Homo sapiens: one gene and its partners. The protein of the gene in region 2 interacts with the protein of the main gene of each other region in a biochemical or structural test. Each region holds a gene or a part of one and is shown on either strand. Other genes may lie near its edges.

What was found. Proteins that work in one complex are often made in the same cells at the same time.
Region 1: the proteins of SMARCA5 (region 2) and CHRAC1 form a complex in vitro, tested with the Homo sapiens proteins (one study listed by BioGRID).
Region 3: the proteins of SMARCA5 (region 2) and BAZ2A form a complex in vitro, tested with the Homo sapiens proteins (one study listed by BioGRID).

Annotation. Positions count from the first base shown.
Region 1 is NC_000008.11:140,506,412-140,514,330, reverse strand, and holds the start of CHRAC1 (chromatin accessibility complex protein 1), read right to left. Parts: upstream 3,010-7,919; 5' UTR 2,832-3,009; coding exon 2,685-2,831; intron 2,336-2,684; exon of another isoform or gene 2,306-2,335; intron 1-2,305. UniProt on the Homo sapiens protein: Forms a complex with DNA polymerase epsilon subunit POLE3 and binds naked DNA, which is then incorporated into chromatin, aided by the nucleosome remodeling activity of ISWI/SNF2H and ACF1.
Region 2 is NC_000004.12:143,544,696-143,551,718, reverse strand, and holds part of SMARCA5 (SWI/SNF-related matrix-associated actin-dependent regulator of chromatin subfamily A member 5), read right to left. Parts: intron 6,983-7,023; coding exon 6,872-6,982; intron 6,250-6,871; coding exon 6,136-6,249; intron 5,795-6,135; coding exon 5,672-5,794; intron 4,944-5,671; coding exon 4,811-4,943; intron 4,335-4,810; coding exon 4,216-4,334; intron 3,792-4,215; coding exon 3,579-3,791; intron 1,723-3,578; coding exon 1,615-1,722; intron 1-1,614. UniProt on the Homo sapiens protein: ATPase that possesses intrinsic ATP-dependent nucleosome-remodeling activity.
Region 3 is NC_000012.12:56,620,318-56,627,340, forward strand, and holds part of BAZ2A (bromodomain adjacent to zinc finger domain protein 2A), read right to left. Parts: intron 6,798-7,023; exon of another isoform or gene 6,700-6,797; intron 937-6,699; exon of another isoform or gene 834-936; coding exon of another isoform or gene 773-833; intron 1-772. UniProt on the Homo sapiens protein: Regulatory subunit of the ATP-dependent NoRC-1 and NoRC-5 ISWI chromatin remodeling complexes, which form ordered nucleosome arrays on chromatin and facilitate access to DNA during DNA-templated processes such as DNA replication, transcription, and repair.

The sequences.
Region 1 (7,919 bases), on a different chromosome or scaffold from region 2:
TGAAAATGTACCACAGAAATTAATTTTTAAAATTACATTGTTGATTCCTTAATTAGGCTTAAAAGTATATTAAGACTTCAGATTCTCTTGGTTTCTCAAATTAAATTACAAGAAATCACTGGGGAGGCCAGGCGTGGTGGCTCACGCTGGTAATACTAACACTTTGGGAGGCTGAGGCAGGCGGCTCACTTGAGGTCAGGAGTTTGAGACCAGACTGGCCAACATAGTGAAACCCCATCTCTATTAAAAATACAAAAATTAGCTGGGCATGGTGGCGGGTGCCTGTAATCCCAGCCAGCGGGAGGCTGAGGCAGGCGAATCGCCTGAACCTGGGAGGTGGAGGTTGGAGATTGCAGCACTCTGGCCTGGGTGATCAAGCAAGACTCCGTCTCAAAAAAAAAAAAAAAAAAAAAAAAAGAAATCACTGGGGAAAAGAAAAACATGAGGTCAGAAAGAAAGCAAAGCCAGTATCAAAATTGGCGGAGAAGCAGGCATTTTCCAGAGGCTTATTTTAGATGTCTAACTTACGAAAAAGATGAATCGTAACTGTTTAATGACCAACCTCTAGAGTAAAAGAAAGAAGCGGCCGGGAGCTGTGGCTCAGGCCTGTAATCCCAGCACTTTGGGAGGCCAAGGACGGCGGACCAAGGATGGTCAGGAGATCGAGACCATCCTGGCTAACACGGTGAAACCCCGTCTCTACTAAAAATAAAATAAAAAAAAAAAACAAAATTAGCCGGGCATGGTGGCGGCTGTAGTCCCAGCTACTCGGGAGGCTGAGGCAGGAGAATGGCGTAAGCCCGGGAGGCGGAGCTTGCAGTGAGCCGAGATCGCGCCACTGCACTCCAGCCTGGGCGACAGAGCGAGACTCCGTCTCAAAAAAAAAGAAAAAAAAATAGAAAGTAGCAAAAAGCCATTCAAAAATTCTATTTGGCTCAGGAATACCTTTTTAGTCTTCTATTTGCATACACTGTTTCTAAGGTGGTTCACCTACAACTATAGTGACCACAGCTTACATTTTGCCAAAACTTTTCTATTCTAGGAACTGACATACAACCCTCAGACCTAATGAAACAACCGGAACTGATCTTCTCCCTCCTGCATCCCAGTTCTTATAGCAGGGCCAAGTCTTCATTTTTACAGAGGCTGAACTGAGCCTCTTTCTCAAGGTTTTGACTTTAATGCATCTAGTTCAGTTAATAAGGGATGAGAAAGACGGGCGTGATGGTTCACGCCTGTAATCCCAGCACTTTGGGAGGCTGAGGCAGACGGATCACCTGAGGTCAGGAGTTCAAGACCAACTTGGGCAACATGGTGAAACCCTGTCTCTACCAAAAAATACAAAAATTAGCCGAGTGTGATGGCAGGCACCTGTAATCCCAGCTACTCAGGAGGCTGAGGCAGGAGAATCATCTGAACCCGCGAGGCAGAGGTTGCAGTGAGCAAGACAGTGCCACCGCACTCCAGCCTGGGAAACTCCATCTCAAAAAATAAAATAACGGGTCAGAAGTGCCTGCATAAATCCTCATTCCTTAATACCAATAGAATGAAATTGTATAGGAAAATACAAATGTCCCCAGATGAAATGCTGAATATGCAATTATTTCCCTGGGCTCTAGGAAAACATGGCTCTGACATAAAGCGGGCAAGAAACCTGTAATTTCCCACTTCCCTTAGTTCTAGTCCAACACTGCAGGGACATCATATACTTAACTACAAGTAGGGACTGGAAAATAGAATCCAAGACAAGCTAAAGCATTTAACTGTGTAGCTGAAACATGGCCCAGTGTCAGAACAGGAAAACATCTGGCCTAACACTATCGAGACGCAATTTTTTTAAAAAAAGACAAAATTATCTATTTTGCACCCAGGAGGATGCTAAGCAGGCTGTAAAACTTAAGTTCCCCGGACTTCCTTAAATTCTGGTTGGGGAATGTGCTGCCTCTTAGACGAGGGGCCCCAGCTGTGGCGGGCGGGAGGGCTCGAAAGCCTCGGACCGCTGGAGCTGGCACCGCACGCGCGGGAAAAGAGCCTCGAGTCGCGGGTGAAGCGCCCGGCTGCCCCTCCCACGGGACACTGGAGGAGTTAGGGCCCTCAAAGCACGAAGCAGTCCAGTGACAAGAAAAAGGCAGGCCGGGAGTAGGGAGTCGCGGGTGAAAGAGCCCCCAAAGAACCCAAATGAGAAGAGCGCCACTAGGCGCCGACGCCCACGGGTAGGGCCGGAAACTGAGCGCCGCACGCGAGGGAGGACGTGAGCGCACAGGTGGGAGGGACGAAAGGCGCGCAGAGGAACGCGGGAGCTTACGGGTTTGCCGAATGGAAGCGCGAGAGAAACGGCGGGAGGACAGTGGGGTGGGCGGGGCGAAGGTGCGCACGGAAGGAAGGGGCGGGCGGAGCGAAGGAAGGCGACAAAGGGCGGGAGAGGCGCGCGGTAGGCGAGGCGAAGAAACTGGAGAACGTGAGGGAGCGGCGAGGGGTGGGCGGGGCGAAGACGCGCGAGAAAGTGTGGGGGCGCGCGGGCACCGAAGCGCGCGCCGGCGTGGGACGGGGACAGCGGGGCGCGCGCGAGCCCGGCAAGAGCAGCCGGCGGCGCGCGGGCCTAAGGGGACTGGGCAGTGCCCAGAGCCCGGCGGGGCGGGGCGCGAGGGGTAAGGGCGGCCCACACCCCCGCCCTGCCCCCTCACCGTGGCCTTGGCCGTGAGCACCAACGCCTCCTGGTTGATGCTGGACACCTCGGGGGAGCTCTTCATGATGACCCGGATGCGGGATAGAGGCAGCGAGATGAGCCGCTGCTCCCCGCCCTTGTCTTTACCCACGACCACGTCCGCCATCTTCCCGCCCGTCGCGCGGGTGCCCGCAGCCGGCGGGCCCGACCGCGAAGTGGCTGCCCTGCCCGGCCAGCTGGTGGGTACGGGGAGCCGCGCCCGCTGCCCCGTGGGAGTTGTAGTGTGGGGAGGCGAGGCCGCGAGGCCGGGAGCGGCCCGTCCGGGAAACTACGAGCTCCGTGAGGCCTCGCGCCCCCGATCTGCGCATGCGCCGACGCTCGGACACCGCCCCCGAGTGCGAGGCCCGGCGCGGAACCGGCAGCCGAGAGCCTGGCGGGGGCGGGGCGCACCGCGCCGCTCCCGGGAGTCTCCGGGCTGCGGTCGCGGAATACGACTTTGATCCGCGGGTGAGGGCTCTGTGAATGGGCAAGCAAAGCCCTCTGACTCCGGGCCTCGTGGCTGGGTGCTGTGTGTTAAGCGCCTGCGCTGTACTAGGACCGGGCGTGCCGCCGTCGGCAAAAAGTGACGCTTTCTTGAAGCACAAAGTCCAGGGGGGACGACCAAGCGGACAGCGGATGCGTCCTGCGCCGGTAGCCAGGCGACCGGTGGAAGAGCAGAGTCCAGCGCGGGCGATGCGGCGGGGCCAGGCTTGCTGCGCCGCGGGGTGATTGGGAGAAGAGCCTTCCTGCGGGGTGGAGGACGAAGAGCTGCCCTGAGGAGGTCCCGGAGTCTGGTGGGAACGGCCTCTTCGGGACTGCTCCGAGAGACGGTGTGCAGAGCCTGGCGTGCTCGCCGAGGTCTGACAGGCAGCCCGGGGCTAGGTCCTGTTGGATTTTTTTTTCTAAGGAAAATGGGAAGTGGTGGTAGGGTTTGAGCAGTGGAGTCCCGGGCAGTTTTAAAAGGATCCCTGCAGCTGCCGGCTGGGAGGGCGTGGGTGCGCGTAAGGCCGGAATCACAGAGACCAGGTAGAAGATGATTACGAGAACCCAGGAACGTGGCCCTCAGGAGGCCGGCAGTACCAAGGGGACAGCAGCTGGGAGGAGAGAGGCAGGAGATGGTCAGGGGCCAGACCAGGGAAGGCCGCGGAGACCGCAGAATTCGCTCTGAATGAGTGGGGAGGCCCTTGGAAGAGTAAGGGGTCCAACTTAACTTTTTTTTTTTTTTTTTTTTTTGACACAGAGTCTCGCTCTGTCGCCAGGCTGGAGTGCAGTGCGATCTCGGCTCACTGCAACCTCCAACACCCCGATTCAAGCAATTCTCCTGCCTCAGCCTCCTGAGTAGCTGGGATTATAGGCACGCGCCACCCAGCTAATTTTTTGTATTTTTAGTAGAGACGGGTTTTCACCATGTTGGCCAGGATGGTCTCGATCTCCTGACCTCGTGATCCGCCCGCCTCGGCCTACCAGAGTGCTGCGATTACAGGCGTAAGCCACCGCGCCTGGCCACCAACTTAACTTCTGCCAGGATCATGGGAAGTGGTAGGGTTTGGGGTCTGATTTCAAGAGGGAGCTGCTGTGGAGTATCAGCACAGCTTACTGAGATATCAGAAAGGCCTTGGTAAAGAGCCCTTTACTGAGACAGGGAGCACATTTTGGCAGAGGTTTGAATTGGAGCGTGTTAAGTGTAGTGTCTTCTTCACCACTGTGACGTGAGGTCCTGGCGCAAATAATTGAGCACAGAAATACATGTCAGGCATTGCTAGGCACAAGGGTACAGCCAGTGAGCAGGGCTGCCATGGTCCCTGCCCTCTTAGAGCTGACCTTCAGGTCTGAGGGAGACTGAAAAATAAGTAAGAATACCTCCAGCCGGGCGCTTTGGCTCACGCCTGTAATCCCAGCACTTTGGGAGGCCAAGGTGGGTGGATCACCTGAGGTCAAGAGTTCGAGACCAGCCCAACCAATATAGTCAAACCCCATCTCTACTGAAATTATTAAAATTAGCTGGGCGTGGTGGTGGGCACCTGTAATGCCAGCTACTCGGGAGGCTGAGGCAGGAGAATCGCTGGAACCCAGGAGGCAGAGGTTACAGTGATCCGGGATCGCGCCACTGCACTCCAGCAGCCTGGGCGACAGAGGGAGACTCCATCTCAAAAAAAAAAAAAAAAAAAAAATACACCTCCAATGCTGAAAGCTACGAAGGAAACAAAACCATGTGCGAGTGATAGGGCAGCCCCTCTGGGAAGTGACATTTGTGCCCAGATCTGAAGAAAGAAAAGGAGCCACTCATACAGAAAGACTGAGACAAGATGAGCTTTCGGGACAAGTCAGGCTCTAGGGAGAACACCTGACGAGGAAAATGCCTGGGCAGTTTGAGGAACTGAAAAGCCAGTGTGTCTGGAGCTTAGTGAGGGAGGCAGAGAGCACGGGAGGTGTGGTTACCAAGGTAGGTGGGACCGGCTCTGGCCCTGGGTAAAAAGTTTGACTTTCATTCCAAGAGTAATGGAAAATAATGAAGAATTTTGAACTCGAGGTGGTGCATGCCTGTAATCCCAGCACTTTGGGAGGCTGAAGCAGGCAGATCGCTTGAGCCCAGGAGTTTGAGATTAGCCCGGGCAGCATAACAGGGCAGCATCTCTACAAAAATTTTATTTTTGGCCGGGCGCGGTGGCTCACACCTGTAATCCCAGCACTTTGGGAGGCCGAGGGGGGGCAGATCTCCTGAGGTCAGGAGTTCGAGACCAGCCTGACCAACATGGCGAAACCCCGTCTCTACTAAAAATACAAAAAATTAGCCGGGCATGGTGGCACGCGCCTGTAATCCCAGCTACTTAGGAGGCTGAGGCAGGAGAATCGCTTGAACCCGGGAGGCGGAGGTTGCAGTGAGCCAAGATCACGCCACTTGCACTCCAGCCTGGGCAACAAGAGAGAAACTCCATCTCAAAAACAAACAAATCCAGACCAGCCTGGCTAACATGGCAAAACCCCCTCTCTACTAAAAATAGAAAAATTGGCTGGGCATGGTGGTAAGCACCTGTAATCTCAGCTGCATTGGCGGCTGAGGCAGGAGAATCACTTGAACTCAGAAGGTGGAGGTTGCAGTGAGCACAGATCACACCACTGCACTCCAGCCTGGGCAACAGAGCAAGACTCTCAAAAAAAAAAAGTTTTGAAGGGAGCAGATCCACTTTAAAAGCTCACACTGGTTCTTGAGTGATGACCAAATGGCACTGTGCCTTATGCAGAGCCGACTCCTGGCAGTTTGCACAGGCTGGAGGTGGAGCTGCAGACTCCCTCTCCCTCTCGGCCTTGCCTCTGTAAATGGGAAAGCCGTTGACATTCACAAAAGAGGGGCAGGGAACTGCTACACAAGAGCAGCTACACAAGAGGGTCCTTTGGTCCACACAGGAAACAAGCCATAGTGATGACATATTTTGAAGCTGTTAGATGTTTTGTTTCCCTAGCTGGCTATTATTTTTGTATGGCTTGTCTTTCTCTTTTGAGTATGTGTGAGAACAGGATGGGTTAACATTAGGGAAGAGCACAGAAGAGGAAGGAAGGAAAGAAGGAAGGGAGGGAGGGAAAGGAGAGAGAATAGGGATGAGAAGCTCAGCTTGTAGAATTGGCAGGTGATGTTTGCAGTCATTAATCATTTGAGAAGTAGAGAGAGAAGCCAAGCAGGAAATCTTCATACTGGAAAAGAAGTGCTCACCATTAAAAAAAAAAAAAAAAAAAATCCAGTGTGGTTCACAGCTGTAATCCCATCACTTGGAGGCTGAGGCAGGAGAAATACGTGAAGCCAGGAGTTTGAGACCAGCCTGGGCAATATAACAAGACCCACATCTCTACAAAGAGAAAAAAAATGTAAAAAAAAGAAGCTTTAAACCTAAGACGGCAGAATTCAAGACTGTTGTCCTTGAGAACTTCCTGGCTCTGGAAAAAGCTCAGTGAGTTAGTCTCATCCTGTCGTTAGCTCTGTTTTTTAGGGGCTCACTTTGTCTTCACGACAGTACCTTGCACCATTCTCATGGGTATCCCAGGGTGGTGCAAGGCAGTTTTCTGCACTTCCCAGAATGCCCTGTCAGCTGGCTTCTGGGTAGGTTCTGCAAATTGGAGGCCCCTGTGAAAGATCGCTGTGGGGTGGGAGGAAGAAGCTTTATCTGCCTGCTGGCTGCAGGGTAGAGGACTGCAGTGGGGTTATAGGGATCACCACCTGCACATGTGGAGCTTTGAGCGGCTTCACTCTAAGTTTCTGCTCAACAGTGGCAGCCCTGGAGTCCTTCGGGGGCGAGTGTGGGCTCCTGGGCTCCAGGCCAGGGGCAGTCCCAGCTTCCTGATCTCGAGGTAGCGTCTCCTCCCTTTTGCTCCATAGCACCTCGCCCTTCTCAGTGACGTGCCTCCTTCTCAGTCATGCGCCTCCAGCTCTAACAATGTCCTTGAAAACAATTCTTGACCATGCGCCGTGGCTCACGCCTGTAATCCCAACACTTTGGGAGTCTGAGGCAGGCGGATCACTTGAGGTCAGGAGTTTGAGACCAGCCTGGCCAACATGTAATCCCAGCTACTCCCTCCACTTGATTTGTGTTCCTTGAAGAAATTTGCATAATCCCTGTATCTGGTTGGCAGATAGCAGAGATGTAGCCTCAGTCTTTCCTTTAAAAATTTTGCTTTAGGCAGGGCGCGGTGGCTCACACCTATAATCCCAGCACGTTGGGAGGCCAAGGTGGGCAGATCATGAGAGCAGGAATTTGAGATCGGCCTAGCCAATATGGTGAAACCCCGTCTCTACTAAAAATATAAAAATTAGCTGGGCGTGGTGGCACAAGCCTGTAATCCCAGCTATTTGGGAGGCTGAGGCAGGAGAATCGCTTGAATCCAGGAGGCAGAGGTTGAGATGAGCCGAGATCACGCTATTGCACTCCAGCCTGGGCAACAGAGGGATACTCCATCTCAAAAAAAATTTTTTGCTTTAGGGCCAATCGTGGTGACACACGCTTGTAATTCTGGCACTTTGAGAGGCCGAGGCAGGTGGATAATTTGAGGTCAGGGGTTCGAGAGCAGACTGGCCATGATGGTGAAATCCCATCTCTACTAAAAATACAAAAAAAGCCAGGTATGGTGGCATACGCCTGTAATCCCAGCTACTCGGGAGGCTGAAGCAGGAGAATCACTTGAACCCGGGAGGTTTAGGTGGCATTGAGCCGAGATTGCACCACTG
Region 2 (7,023 bases):
AGTCCATACATCTACATGGAACTCATTTTTGACAAAGCTACCAAGAACATACACTGGAGAAAGGACAGTCTCTTCAATAAATGGTAATGGGAAAATTGGATATCCATACACAGAAGAATGAAACTTGACCTGTATCCCTAACTATATAAAAAAATCAAATCAAAATGTATTAAAGACTTTAAGTCCTCAAACTGTGAAACTACAAGAAAACATTGGGAAAACTCTCCAGAACACTGGACTGGGCAAAGATTTCTTGAATAATACCCCACAGGCAACCAAAGCAAAAATGGACAAATGGGATCACATTAAGTTAAAAAGCTTCTGCACAGCAGAGGAAACAGCAAAGTGAAGAGACATCCCACAGAATGGAAGAAAATATTTGCAAACTACCCATTTGTCAAAGGATTAATAAATAACCAGAATATGTAAGAGCTCAAACAACTCTACTGAAAAAAATCCTAACAGTCCGATTTAAAAATAGGCAAAAGATCTGAACAGATGATTCTCAAAGGAAGACATACAAATGGCAAACAAGCATATTAAAAGCTGTTCAGTATCACTGATCATCAGAGAAATGCAATCAAAACTACAATGAGATAACATCTCATCCCAGATAAAATGGCTTTTATCCAAAAGTCAGGCAATAACAAATCCTGACAAGAATGTGGAGAAAAGGAAACCCTCATACACTTTTGGTGGGAACGCAAATTAGTACAATCACTGTGGAAGCAGTTTGAAGGTTCCTCAAAAAACTACAGATAAGAGTTACCCTACTCCTAGGTTTACACCCAAAAGAAAGTCAGTATATCAAAGAGATATGTGCACTCCCATGTTTACTGCAGCACTATTCACAGTAGCCATGATTTGGAAGCAACCTAAGTGTCCATCAACAGATAAATGGATAAAGAAAACATGGTATGTATACACAATAGAATACTATTCAACCATAAGCAATGAGACCCTGTAATTTGCAGCAACATGGATGGAACTGGAGTTTATTAAGTGAAATAAGCCAGACACAGAAAGACAAACTTGGCATGTTCTCACTTATTTGTGGGAGCTAAAAACTACAATTAAACTCATGGAGACAGAGAGAAGGATGGATACCAGAGGCTGAGAAAGGCAGTGGGGGTGGGGGAAAGTGGGGCTGGCTAATGGATACAAATAAATACAAAGAGAGACTAAGACCCAGTATTTGATAGCCCAACACAGTGACTACCGCAATAAATAATTTAATTATACATTTTAAAATAACTAAGAGTTAAACTGTTTGTAACAGGGATAAATGCTGGAGGTGATAAATACCCCATTTACCCTGATGTCCTTATTACTTATTGCATGCCTGTATCAAAGTATCTCATGTAACCTATAAATACATACTTACTCATAACAACTAAAAATTAAAAATTATACCACTACCTAAATTTGAAAGTGGAAGAATCTCAAATTATGAGCTTGGGTTCTCCCTTAAGGAAAAAAAAAAAAAAAAAAAAGTAAAGGCAATGGAGGGGTGCACAACAGGGACTAACACATCAATGACAGCCAAGCAGTGTTAAATACTTAGAAAGGGGAAATTTACATAATCCACATATTTACATATTCATGAATACTTACTGAAGGCTTTGGTCCTCGTTTCTTTTTCTCTGCCTTCTCCTTTTCTTCTAGTTCCATGTTTTCTCTTTCAATCAAAGTAATTAAGGTATTACATCTCCTCTGGAGCTCCTAAATTATAAACAAACATGGTACACGCACTTTCCATCCACAAGTTTCATGATTTCAATTTTAAAACAAGGTATGTTTTAATAGGATAATATATAAAACCACTAATACACCCCTGATTTAAAAAAAAAACAACTGATTTTCATATACAATTCATGCTATGAAGATTAAAGGCAAGATATTTGTAAATAATGTTTTTACTCCAATCTTTAAAGCCAAACTACTGTGTATTCTTCAAAAATTCTTCCTTCACTTAGGAATTAAAGCAATAAAAATGAACATATGCAATACTGCTACTTAGTGTGTATGTCTGAGAACTACTGTGCTACTTATATCCAAAACTTAAAAAGATTAATAGTGCACATATGTGAGGGTCAAAAACAACAAGAACTTTAACAGGTGTGTATAATCTTTCCCTTCAAAGTATCACTAGAATTATGGTAGTCAATCAATCACATGGCACCTTTCCCAATTTTGGAAAACCAGCCATGGAAGTCTACGATGAGTTCTACCTCATCTCTCTCTGGCAAACTGGACATACAGCCTCCAGAAAAGATTTAAAGTATAACATAGAAGTAGCAGTTAACCCTGAAAGAAACAGAAGTCCATCTGCACGGACGGCTGCTGGGTAGCAGCCCCCTTTCTTATAGAGCAAAATTATTTTTTTCTTATAGTAAGTGATACTACTACACACACAACTACAGTAAAATAATTTTAAAATACTACTGTATAGAATACACCACACAAGACTTAGAAATAGTATATAGAGATAGAAGAATACATTATCATTTTTTGTGCATCTTAACATGGAACATGTTAAGAAGTAACACAGTTTTAAATTACGGTACTGTACTAGTTAAATTAACATGGCACTGTCTTGTTACAATCACTATAAAATTATTCTTTATTAACTCTATAAATTGTTCCCACTTAAGAAGAAATAAGCTTTCAGCAACTGGATCTTTTCTCTAATTATATATTTATACAGTGTTTTATCTTCAAAGTATCTTCATGTATTTAAGTTTAGTACATTTCCCAAACTTGGGTATCACAAACAGTGATGTCTAGTGAAAAAAAATTTTCAGTGGTCAAACATGAAAATACTGCTTACTATCCACTGTCTTACAAAGTGACATTTTACTTTAAATATACAGAGAAATCTTACTATAAACAAACACAAAGATGTTTAAACTTTGCTTATCCCAGAATATCCCAAACTTAAGACTAAAGAACTTATTAGCATTATCCTCATCTGGCAGAAAACAAGTTGAAGCTCAAAGTTCAATGGTGGTGAAATAAGGAAGAAAAGGAGCAATCCATCAAAGTTAAACTTTTCTGAATTCAAATTTTAGGTTATTAGAAATGGGGCTATTTGGTCAGAAACTGTTAGTCAGATATTGGGAATAAAAACAAAACCTAGCACTAAATCAGTGCAAAAGTAGTGTTTCACTATAATAAGCCATCTTAAAATAATCCAGACTCTGGATGATTTATATTAAATAAATCAGAATGCTGATTCTGATGTGCAGATGCTTGAATGCAAGGACCATTTTTCTTTATAGAAATATGTTCATTTGAAAAACCAAAAAGTCGTAACACTCAGAAGTTGAAACTGATACTTCCTCCCACTTAGAACTTGAAAAGCTAGTCTTATCATATAGTGATATTTAAAGACGTAAGATACTAAAGGATAGGACCAATAAACTTGTAAGCTATCCCTGGTATTAGGTTTTATGATACTAACAATATTGTAACAAAAGTCTACTTCATAGATTTTTTTAAAGTCACCTTAAAGAATACCAAAGATGACACTTACTCTGAACTCTGCTACATTACACAAAAAAGCCCTGAGCACTCACCATTGCAGTTCTGGACTTAAGAAACCAGTCAAATCTGAACTGAGGAGAGTTGCGAATACACTGTCGCAATTCATCATAAACATTTTCTTTGTCAAATCCAAGTTTGTGAAGCATACAAATCAGAAAACGATCTTCTTCTTCAGTATAGTTTTTTCCTTTGTTAGTACCATATGATATTCTCAGCTGATGAAAAGGTGCTTTGTACCGTCCAATCTATGAAAGTCAGATTTTATATTATATAAAATACAAATCCTATATAATCTGTATTTCAAACTCAGCTTTAGTATAATTAGCTAAAATGTTGCATTTCAAATCAGAATTTTCTATCTAGAGCACTTCAATTGCTTTATATAATCTTTGTCCCGAAAGACCTTTATAGTCTTTATTATTATAAAGAGAAATACAGACTAAGACTTCCTGATTCTACTTAGTAAAAAGCTAATCTTAGTGTCTTTGACTCAGATCTATCAGTCTAGTGTATAGGTAAATTCTGCTGACAATACCATGTTTGAATGCTACTCTGAAGAAATTTTAAATTGTAAACCCTTACTTCTTTTCCTTTATAAAAAGTCACTCTCTCATACTCACAGCTAGGAGTTATTTTATTAACTACCTAACTTATTAACAAGCAAATTACCTTTGTGTCAAGTGCTTTCTTGATGCTTATTCTTCTTTGAATTCTCGCCTCTCCCCTTTCAATCTGAGCCATAATCTTCTCTATGTCCTGGAGCTCGTTGCACCTTTCCCAAAACACAGCTGTAAAAGTTGGACAAAGTAAACAAATCATTTATATTTTTATTTCTTTAATGTAAAAAAAATGGGATCAACTGGATTATTTATCTTCTAATTCTTAAATTTCTGCTATTCTAAGCAGACTCACCACAGCATACCCTCACATGTTAACCTAATAATACAACTGACTTCAGGAAACACAACACATAATACTTGAAGTTATGCAGAGAAATTAAGATAAAAATGCAAGGGCAATTATCCAGTGACTTATTCTGATTTTCTTTGCTGTCGCTAGAGTTAGCTAGGGTTAAAAAATTTTTAAAAAGGAAACCATTACGCCATTTCTGGAAACAGAACATTTTCTAATTTGTAAAAAATAATGAAGAAGGTACTAACTACACTGTGACAAAATTAGCTAATCACAACATAATTCAGAATAAGAAAACAAGAACCTTCCAACAGCTCTTACTAAACTCCAACAGCCTGCTTAAAAGAATTACCTGAATATTCAATGACTTCTTCTGGAGTTTTGCCTTCTACTTCTCTTGCTATATTTTCAATATCATCACGACCCCACTTCTCATTAGCTTTGATAAACTGGTTAAAATCTCTCTTATTCCAATTGGTAAATCCCTTCACAGGAACAGAAACAAAATATTTAATCACAGCACATTAAACTTGGAAAACATGCTATTAGCAAACCTTCTAAATATTACAAAAACAAATTTTCACTAGTTTATTAAGTTCTTTTAGAGTGGTAACTTTTCGTGTACATAAATATACACTTTTGACAACACATTATATATTGCTCAAATACCCAAGCAATTAAATATGAGTGGCTGAGAGTAAGGAATACTGTATGAAAAGGTGACAGTTTCACTGAGCTTTGAAGGATTACTAGCAGTTGGCCAGAAAGAGTGAATAACATAAAGGGCAAAAATATGAGCAAGTAGAAAAATGGAAGGAAAATGAAGCTTTAAAGGTAAGTCAAAGGCCAGATTCTGAAAGACCTTGATGAACACCAAAGGATGTTTAAAAAATAACCAAGCCAAGATTTATAGTTGAAAATGGTGACTGGGTAGCAATGTGGAAAATTCATAGGAAAGACGGGAACATTCAAAGTAAGGTGATAAAAAAGATACCCACTCTACCGAGCCAGAGTAATAAAATCTGTAGTCTTCTCAACTACCTCAACTAGTGACAATCAGATGGAGCATTTATCCACATGCCCATACTTTATTGTCTCCAATTATTCCATCTTTAAAAGCAGAAACTTGTATTTATTTTTATGCCCCAACATAACCTAACACAGTCCTTTACAACAAACTGTTACTAAAGTTTGTACTGATTAAAGGCTATACCTGTGTTAGAAGCTTCTCTTTTTCCTCTAACTCTTCATCATTAAGGGATTCAGCTTCATCAATTTTAAGCTGTTCTTCTTTTTGTGCCTGTGCTGCATTAGGCAGCTCAGGATTTCGAGGTACCTAAAAGATATTTTTCTATGCCATCAAATCAGTAAATTTTAAAGAGCATGTGATGAACCAACTAACTGACATTTCACAAGTTTCAATTCAACCAGGAAAGAAAATATACTGATACATTGCATGTATTATGTTAAAAACAAACCAGATTGGTCATGAAGTCTTATTTTTTCTTGTTAAAGAAAAACAGACCCAAGTTTATGTATTTCATACATACAACTAGACTAGGCTAAAGCAGTATTGTTTCACACTAGGTCCAAATTAGATAAATATTTATAACTAATGTTTATACCTTCCATAATTTCTGGATAGGAATGAACAGAAAGGCAGATAATTTCAATTACCTTGTACCCAATAGTTTTTCTGTAAAACAGAATTTCTTTTTCCAGTAATTCAAATAAACGTGGAGGAAAGAACTGGAAATCCTGAACATTGGGTTGTTTTGGAGGTCGAGGAGCCTAAAGAAAAACAAAAATAAGTGTTATCCATAAAAAAGAAATTTCATTTTAAATGTATCCTTAGTCCTCACTTCATAAACCACAACAGCCAATTCTGCAAGCAACTGAATGCATCTTTCAATAAAACTGAATTTATATCTTAATTTTAAATGCACAGATTCAAAATTAATTTTTGAAAAATGTTAACTAAAAACAGAAGAGAGTACACTCTAAAGAAATGCAAAATGTAGGAAAGAGGCAGTGGCTCACGCCTGTAATCCCAATACTTTGGGAGACCAAGGTGGGCGGATCATGAGGTCAAGAGATCAAGACCATCCTGGCCAACATGGTGAAACCCCATCACTACTAAAATTACAAAAATTAGCCAGGGGTGGTGGTGGGTGCCTGTAGTCCCAGCTACTCGGAAGGGTGAGGCAGGAGAATTGCTTGAACCCGGGAGGCGGAGGTTGCAGTGAGCTGAGATCGCACCACTGAACTCCTGGTAACAGAGTGAGACTCTGTCTCAAAAAAAAAAAAAAAAAAGAAACACAAAATCTAATTATCAATCTTTTTGCAAGAATATATGAAAAAAATTACATTTTCAAAATTTTTAGATATTTTTATGCTGTGTCAGTCAACTCACCTTGGGTGCTTTAGGTTCACTAACACGAAGAGCTTCCCTGAAATATGCATCAACGGCATAGTTGGCTTTTCTTTCTCGTTTAGGTGGTTCAATCCACTCTGTGAATGCAATCTAGCACATGGGAAACAACTCAAATCACCAACTTTTATTAT
Region 3 (7,023 bases), on a different chromosome or scaffold from region 2:
AAAAATGGAGTCTTTATAGTGAAAAGACCCCAGGTTAGCCAGGCATGATGGTGAGCAGCTGCAGTCCCAGCCACTTGGGAGGCTGAGGCAGGAGGATTGTTTGAGCCTGGGAAGCAGAGATTGCAGTGAGCCAAGATCATGCCACTGCATTCCAGCCTGGGTGACAGAGCGAAACCCTGTCTCAAAAAAACAAAACAAAACAAAACAAACAAACAAACAAAACACACAGGGTCCTCCAGGATTTCCTTTTTTTTTTTTTGAGACAGAGTTTCCCTCTTGTTGCCCATGCTGGGGTGCAAGGGTGTGATCTCGGCTCACTGCAACCTCCACCTCCCAGGTTCAAGCGATTCTCCTGCCTCAGCCTCCCCAGCAGCTGGGATTACAGGCACCCGCCAACACGCCCAGATAATTTTTTATCTTTTTAGTAGAGACGGGGTTACACCATGTTGGCCAGGCTGGTCTTGAATTCCTGACCTCAAGTGATCGACCCACCGCGGCCTCCCAATGTGCTGGGATTACAGCCATGAGCCACTGCGCCCAGTCAGGATTTCCCTAGTATAGTTAACAGCTACTCCTCAGCAGTAGGGGGTCTGAAAGATAAGCATCATGAGATTAATAATCCTTCTTAAGTGCAAGAATTAAAGGAAAGTTCATTCCTTAGTCTCCAGTTAGGTTCCTTCCAAAGCTTATACCACAGAGCAAGGAGGACACTCTTCACTTCAGAAGTCCTGGAAATACTATGCCTAGAGGGCCAATTTCATCTGATCCTCACCTCTCCTCTCCCCAGTTTTTTGTACACCTCCCCTGGTGTGGAGGATACATGCAACTTCCATCCTATGTGCAGTGGACTATATCCTCCTCAATGATGGGTCACGGTTCATTTTTCCATTCTCTATTTGAATCCAAGAACAAAGTTGTGACCTCCTCTCTGCTGCTCTGGAAAAGCACAGCATATCCTGTTTTTGTAAATATTAATAACAACATGTCGATGGCTCACAGAAATCAGAGAATTAAAAAGAATGGGAAGTTATTTAGTATGTGAGATCAGTTTCTCCACCTGTCTCTTCTGAACTGTCATCAGAACCACAACCACTTCATTTACGAGAAGCTTCCTAGACACATAAAATTGTCTTTGTGCTATGCAATGTGGTCAGCACAATGTAGTGGGCTCTAGGTTCAAATCCCAACTCTACTATTTACTAGCTAGCTGTTTAACCTTGGACAAGTTACTTATACTTGCTGGGCCTAAGTTTCATCATCTGTAACAATTTTTGTACCCACTTTTAAGGACTGGTGAGGATGAAATGAGAAAATCTAAATTAGAGCCCCAGCACAGTGTCTGTCATCCAGCAAGCACTCCATAAACGTTAGTTTTTTTTTTTTCTTCTTGAGACAGAGTCTCACTCTGTCATCCAGAGTGGTGTGCAGTGGCATGATCATAGCTCACTGCAGCCTGGAACTCCTGGGCTCCAGTAATCCTCCTGCCTCAGCTTCCCAAGTAGCTAGGACTACAGGTGCTCACCACCACACCTGGCTAATTTTTAAATTTTTTTGTAGACACAGGGTCTCGCTATGTTGCCCATGATGGTCTCAAATTCCTGGCCTCAAGCAATTCTCCCACCTTGACCTCCCAAAGTGCTGGGATTACAGGCGTGAGCCACCTTACCAGGACTACATTAGCTACTATTATTAGACAAACAGTAAAAGACTGTGTAGTTTTCAAAAAGATAATCAGGCCTGGCCAGGCGCAGTGGTTCACGCCTGTAATCCCAGCACTTTGGGAGGCCAAGGTGGGTGGATCACCTGAAGTCAAGAGTTCGAAACCAGCCTGGCCAACATGGCGAAACCCCATCTCTATTAAAATTACAAAAAATTAGCTGGGCGTGGTGGCGGGCACCTGTAATCCCAGCTACTCAGGAGGCTGAGGCAGGAGAATTGCTTGAATCCAGGAGATGGAGGTTGCAGTGAGCTGAGATCGCACCATTGCACTCTAGCCTGGGTGACAGAGCAACACTCTATCTCCAAAAAAAAAAGATAATCAGGTCTAAACGGTCTACATATAAAATAAATATAATTTAAAACTAGGGATGATCCAGCCAGACTTCCTTATATACAATTTGACTCCTGATTTCAGATGTCACTTAAATATGGGAATTAATTATGTCACAGTATGGGAATACGAAAAACATGTGAACACCTCCTCTCAACAATGAACCTAGGTTTATTTCATTTTAACCTTCCTACTCAAGATGCTTTTCACAATAAACCCTAAAGGTAAACTCTGTCCTCCCATCCAGAGCTAGTAAGAACAGTAAAGCAAAGGAGAGCATCTCCCTTTGAACTAATAGGATTTTCACCAAATGAGAAAAGAAATCAGCCAGTGCCCAACCCCTAGAGTAGCAGATGACTCTCATACCAGGAAGTACATTCATTCAAGCACCCAGCCCAGTCCCAGCTATACATAAATGGATCTTTTAAGAGCTCCTATGTTTCATTTATAAGAGTAAGGGACATTGCCCTATAAGCTTGAAGCAATAAAGCCCTCCCCACAGGGCCGAATAGGTTGCTTTTCTCCCAGTTCCAATCAAAGAGCTGCTACTCTGTGGGCCTGTGACATGGTTTAATAGAAAAAGGCTGACAACACCAAGAGCAGTGGCTCGTGTAATCCCAGCACTTTGGGAGGCCGAGGTGAGCGGATCACGAGGTCAAGAGATCGAGACCATCCTGGCTAACACGGTGAAACCCTGTCTCTACTAAAAATAGAAAAAATTAGCCAGGCGTGGTGGCGGGCACCTGTAGTCCTACCTACTCGGGAGGCTGAGGCAGGAGAATGGCGTGAACCCGGGAGGTGGAGGTTGCAGTGAGCCGAGATCGCGTCACTGCACTCCAGTCTGGGCGACAGAGCGAGACTCCATCTCAAAAAAAAAAAAGAAAAAGGCTGACAATGCACAAAGTGTTGAAATAAATATTATATATTGCAACACTGTTACAGGTGTCCTCCCTGACCAATTCTAACCCTCCAGCCTCTGAGGCTACCCCCCAGGACAACAAGACACATTAACACCCTCCAGCTGGATACTGCAGTGGTCCCTGCAGCTCTTGGGTTCATTCTTCTCATGTAGTACATCAAAATCTCACAAATGGGGTTGGGGGGTGAGAGAGATTTCAAATGTTTATCTTGACTAAACAGCAAAGGCAAATTCTAGAGTAAAAATCACACCACTACATTTTAGCTTTGTAATTGTGAACATCATGAAGGATATTTCTTAACTCTACACATCTCTGGATTACCCACCACACTCTAATACAGAGGTTCTCATCAGGGGCAATTCTGCCCCGTAGGGGACATTTAGTAATCTCTGAAGGTATGTGCTACTGGCATCTAGTAAGCAGAAGCCAAAGATGCTGCTAGGCGTCCTTCAACAAACAGGACAGCGCCCCCCACAACGAAGATATTATCTGGCCCACGTTATCAATAGTGCCAAGGCTGAGAAACCCTGTTCTAATGTAAAAGCTGTCCCATTCCTGCCCCACACCTTGGGAAAGTTCCAAGTTTTCACTGTTCCCAGTTCCTGACACTGCAAATGAGGACGCTTTGGCTTTTGTATCTAAAAACCTCATCTCCCTGGCTAAGCCATGTTCCTCCACCAATAAGAGTTCCATGTAGGCTGGGAGAGGTGGCTCATGCCTATAACCTCAGCAGGATCACTTGAGGCCAGGAATTCAAGACTGGCCTGCGCAACACAGTGAGACCCTATCTCTACACTAAAAAAAAAAAAAAAATTCCAAGTACCAAGCCACAGAATAAATATGCCCTCTTCTCCAATCACGATAACCCATTCTGAGTGCCCTAGTAACAAGCTTCCCTTGAACTCTGACTCGGACAAACTATATCATATACTGACTGAGGCTCAAAATATCCATCCTCTCCTTAACTACCTTCCCTAGTCAGGACTCCAAGTGAGGCAGAACAAAGATAATGAAAGAAGGAAGATTATACTAAGAGGGGGCTACTCAAAGAAAACTGTCACGTCCAGGCTGTTCAGAAGAATTCAAAGATGACTGTTCTCTGTCCTTATTTCTTCTACATTATGTCGGTTCCACAGCATCAGTTGGATATAAGTTCCACCATTATATCCCTAGCACCTAATTTAGTGCTAAGTATACAAAAGAACCAAAGGAAATATTTGTTGAGTCCATGGACTGAAGAAATGAATGAGTAAATCTACCTTTTCTGCCACTACCAGCTTACTTATCCAATGAAGGTCATGGGCTTTGCTCTTACTATTTTCAGAGAACAAAAAAAAAAAAAAAAAACTCAGCTTCATTCTTCACAGAGATAAAAATTTCAAGAGAGAAGAAAGGCCTCAAATCTTGACGTACTTAAATAGCCATTCCTTGAAGAAAATAAGGCCTGAAAATAGGGAAGTACTGATAATGTAAAAAGCCAATAAATTAGCTAGGCATGGTGGCATATGCCTGTAGTGCCAGGTTCTCCGGAGGCTGAGGTGGGAGGATTATTTGAGTCCAGGACCTGGAGGCTGCAGTGGGCTATGATCACACCACCGTTTTCAACCAAATAAAAAAATAAATAAACGTAAGCTCTGAATTAATAAAACATTCTACTTGGTTTAACTGAACACTTGAGGCATATAATAGGTTTTTATATATTTGTTAATTAAAGAAACTACAGGTTAAGTTTTCTGCCACATTTCCAGTCACTTTACTCTCAGAAGACCAGGAATGCCTCTGAAATTGCAGGACACTAAAAGCCACAGTCCAGAGGTTATATTAAGGTAATTTCCCTCTTTCAGCTCTGATTGTTTCTTAGAATTTCTTTTTTTTTTTTTTTTTTTTTGAGACAGTGTGGCTCTGTTGCCCAGGCTGGGGTGCAGTGGCACGATCTCTGCTCACTGCAACCTCCATCTCCCCGGTTCAAGCAATTCTCCTGCCTCAGCCTCCCAAGTAGCTGGGATTACAGGCGCCCACCATCACACCCGGCTAATTTTCATATTTTTAGTAGAGACAGGGTTTCACCATGTTGGTCAGGCTGGTCTTGAACTCCTGACTTCAGGTGATCCGCACGCCTCAGCCTCCCAAAGTGCTGCGACTGCAGGCTGAGCCACCGTGCCCAGCCAGAATTTAAACTCTAACAGTTAAGGACTCCACCCTTTCCACCCCCAAATATGAGCTAAGCAGGCAGGTTAAGGACCCCATTCATGAGGCAGGTTACAGAGTCCAACCTCAAAAGACTAAAAGTAGGAAGACCATCTATCTTTTAAAAACTTCTTGGCTCACGCCTGTAATCCCAGCACTTTGGGAGGCCGAGACGGGCGGATCATGAGGTCAGGAGATCGAGACCATCCTGGCTAACACGGTGAAACCCCGTCTCTACTAAAAATACAAAAATTAGCCGGGCATGGTGGCGCGCGCCTGTAGTCCCAGCTACACGGGAGGCTGAGGCAGGAGAATGGCGTGAACCCGGGAGGCGGAGCTTGCAGTGAGTCGAGATCGCGCCACTGCACTCCAGCCTGGGCGACACAGCGAAACTCCGTCTCAAAAAAAAAAAAAAAAAAAAAACAACAACAAAAAACTTCTTCCTTTCTTTGGTAAATTTTTGGCAAGATTACAGTATTTTAGTCTGCAAAATGCCCCCATAATAACTGTTCTCTTTAAAGAGGAGAAAAGACAAAACACTAAGCCAATGCTACTTTTACTGCTAGTGACAGTATCTTCAAAGTATCAGATATCTTCAAAGATGGGCTTTTTTGTTTTGCACAATTTTTTAAATTTCCAAATTAGGCAGACTGATAATAACAAGCTGGTGAAAAATAGTCCTACTGACCCACATGAGATAATACTGAGAAACTATTCATCTTGGGCTATATATAAGGCATATGAGGACACCAACATCCTAAGAAACAAACCAAGAAGGTTATTTACCCCAGGAATTATCTCAAATTTTATACTTGGCATTATTGCTGCTCTTGATACATCTTACACAAGGTCAAACATCATTATCAATGACTAACTTCTATACTGTTTCAGCAGTAAAAATAGCAGTTTGGTGCTTGACCTCTTCAGTGGTGACAAGAAAGGTCAACAGCAGGAAGACACTGTCAGTAACCCTAACAAGCTTTGCTTCTCTCCCAGTAATACTTGATTCCAGAGCCGCAAGACTACAAGATGAACCCTTCATTCTAGACTGGCTCTGGGGTCAGCCCATACAGCTCTCTTTACACCTCAGATTTTTTCTTTCATCGAGAAGCTTGAAATATTAAGAAATATATTTCTCTGACAGAAAAATGCACCCATTTTATAAGAAGGCCATGAAAGGTTTGCTTCATTCAGCTCCCAATTCAATCATGTATCAAATGAAATCACTATTTTCTCAAAATCAGCTTTTCTTTTAAAAGTCCAAAGACTCAAGAGTAGTTATCTCTCCTTTCTTTACTCTTTTAACCCCCAACAGGGAAAATCAACTTGCTGTTCTGTCAAGTGCCAATTCAGGTAAGCAAAGGCTGAAGAAAGGGGAACTTAAAATCAGCATCAAATCAACCCCATCAGACAGCAACTTAAAGGAACTAATCAGGGGCAAGAAAAAGGATGCTGACATCAGATGGACTTGTTTTTACTGTTTCCAGAATATCAAAAACCCCAACAGCCCCAGTGAGAAGAGCAATGATGCTGCTATCTTACTAGTGATGATGCCACTTTCACACAATCATAAGTGTCTATCTGCTCCCATACTGGATCTTTAATCTAGGGATCTTCATCTAGGTGGGAGGGGTTTTTGCCTGGAAAATAAATAGTGAAAAGATGATTTAAATGACAGGCTTACGTAGTTTTCAGAATAGTCCAAATAATCTGAAAATGTTATCTTTCAAGGCTTGGCCCTGTGGCTTATGCCTGTAACCCCAGCACTTTGGGAGGCTCAATTCGAGTTCGAGACCAGCCTGACCAACATGGTGAAACCCCTTCTCTACTAAAAATACAAAAATTAGCCAGGCATGGTGGCGCATG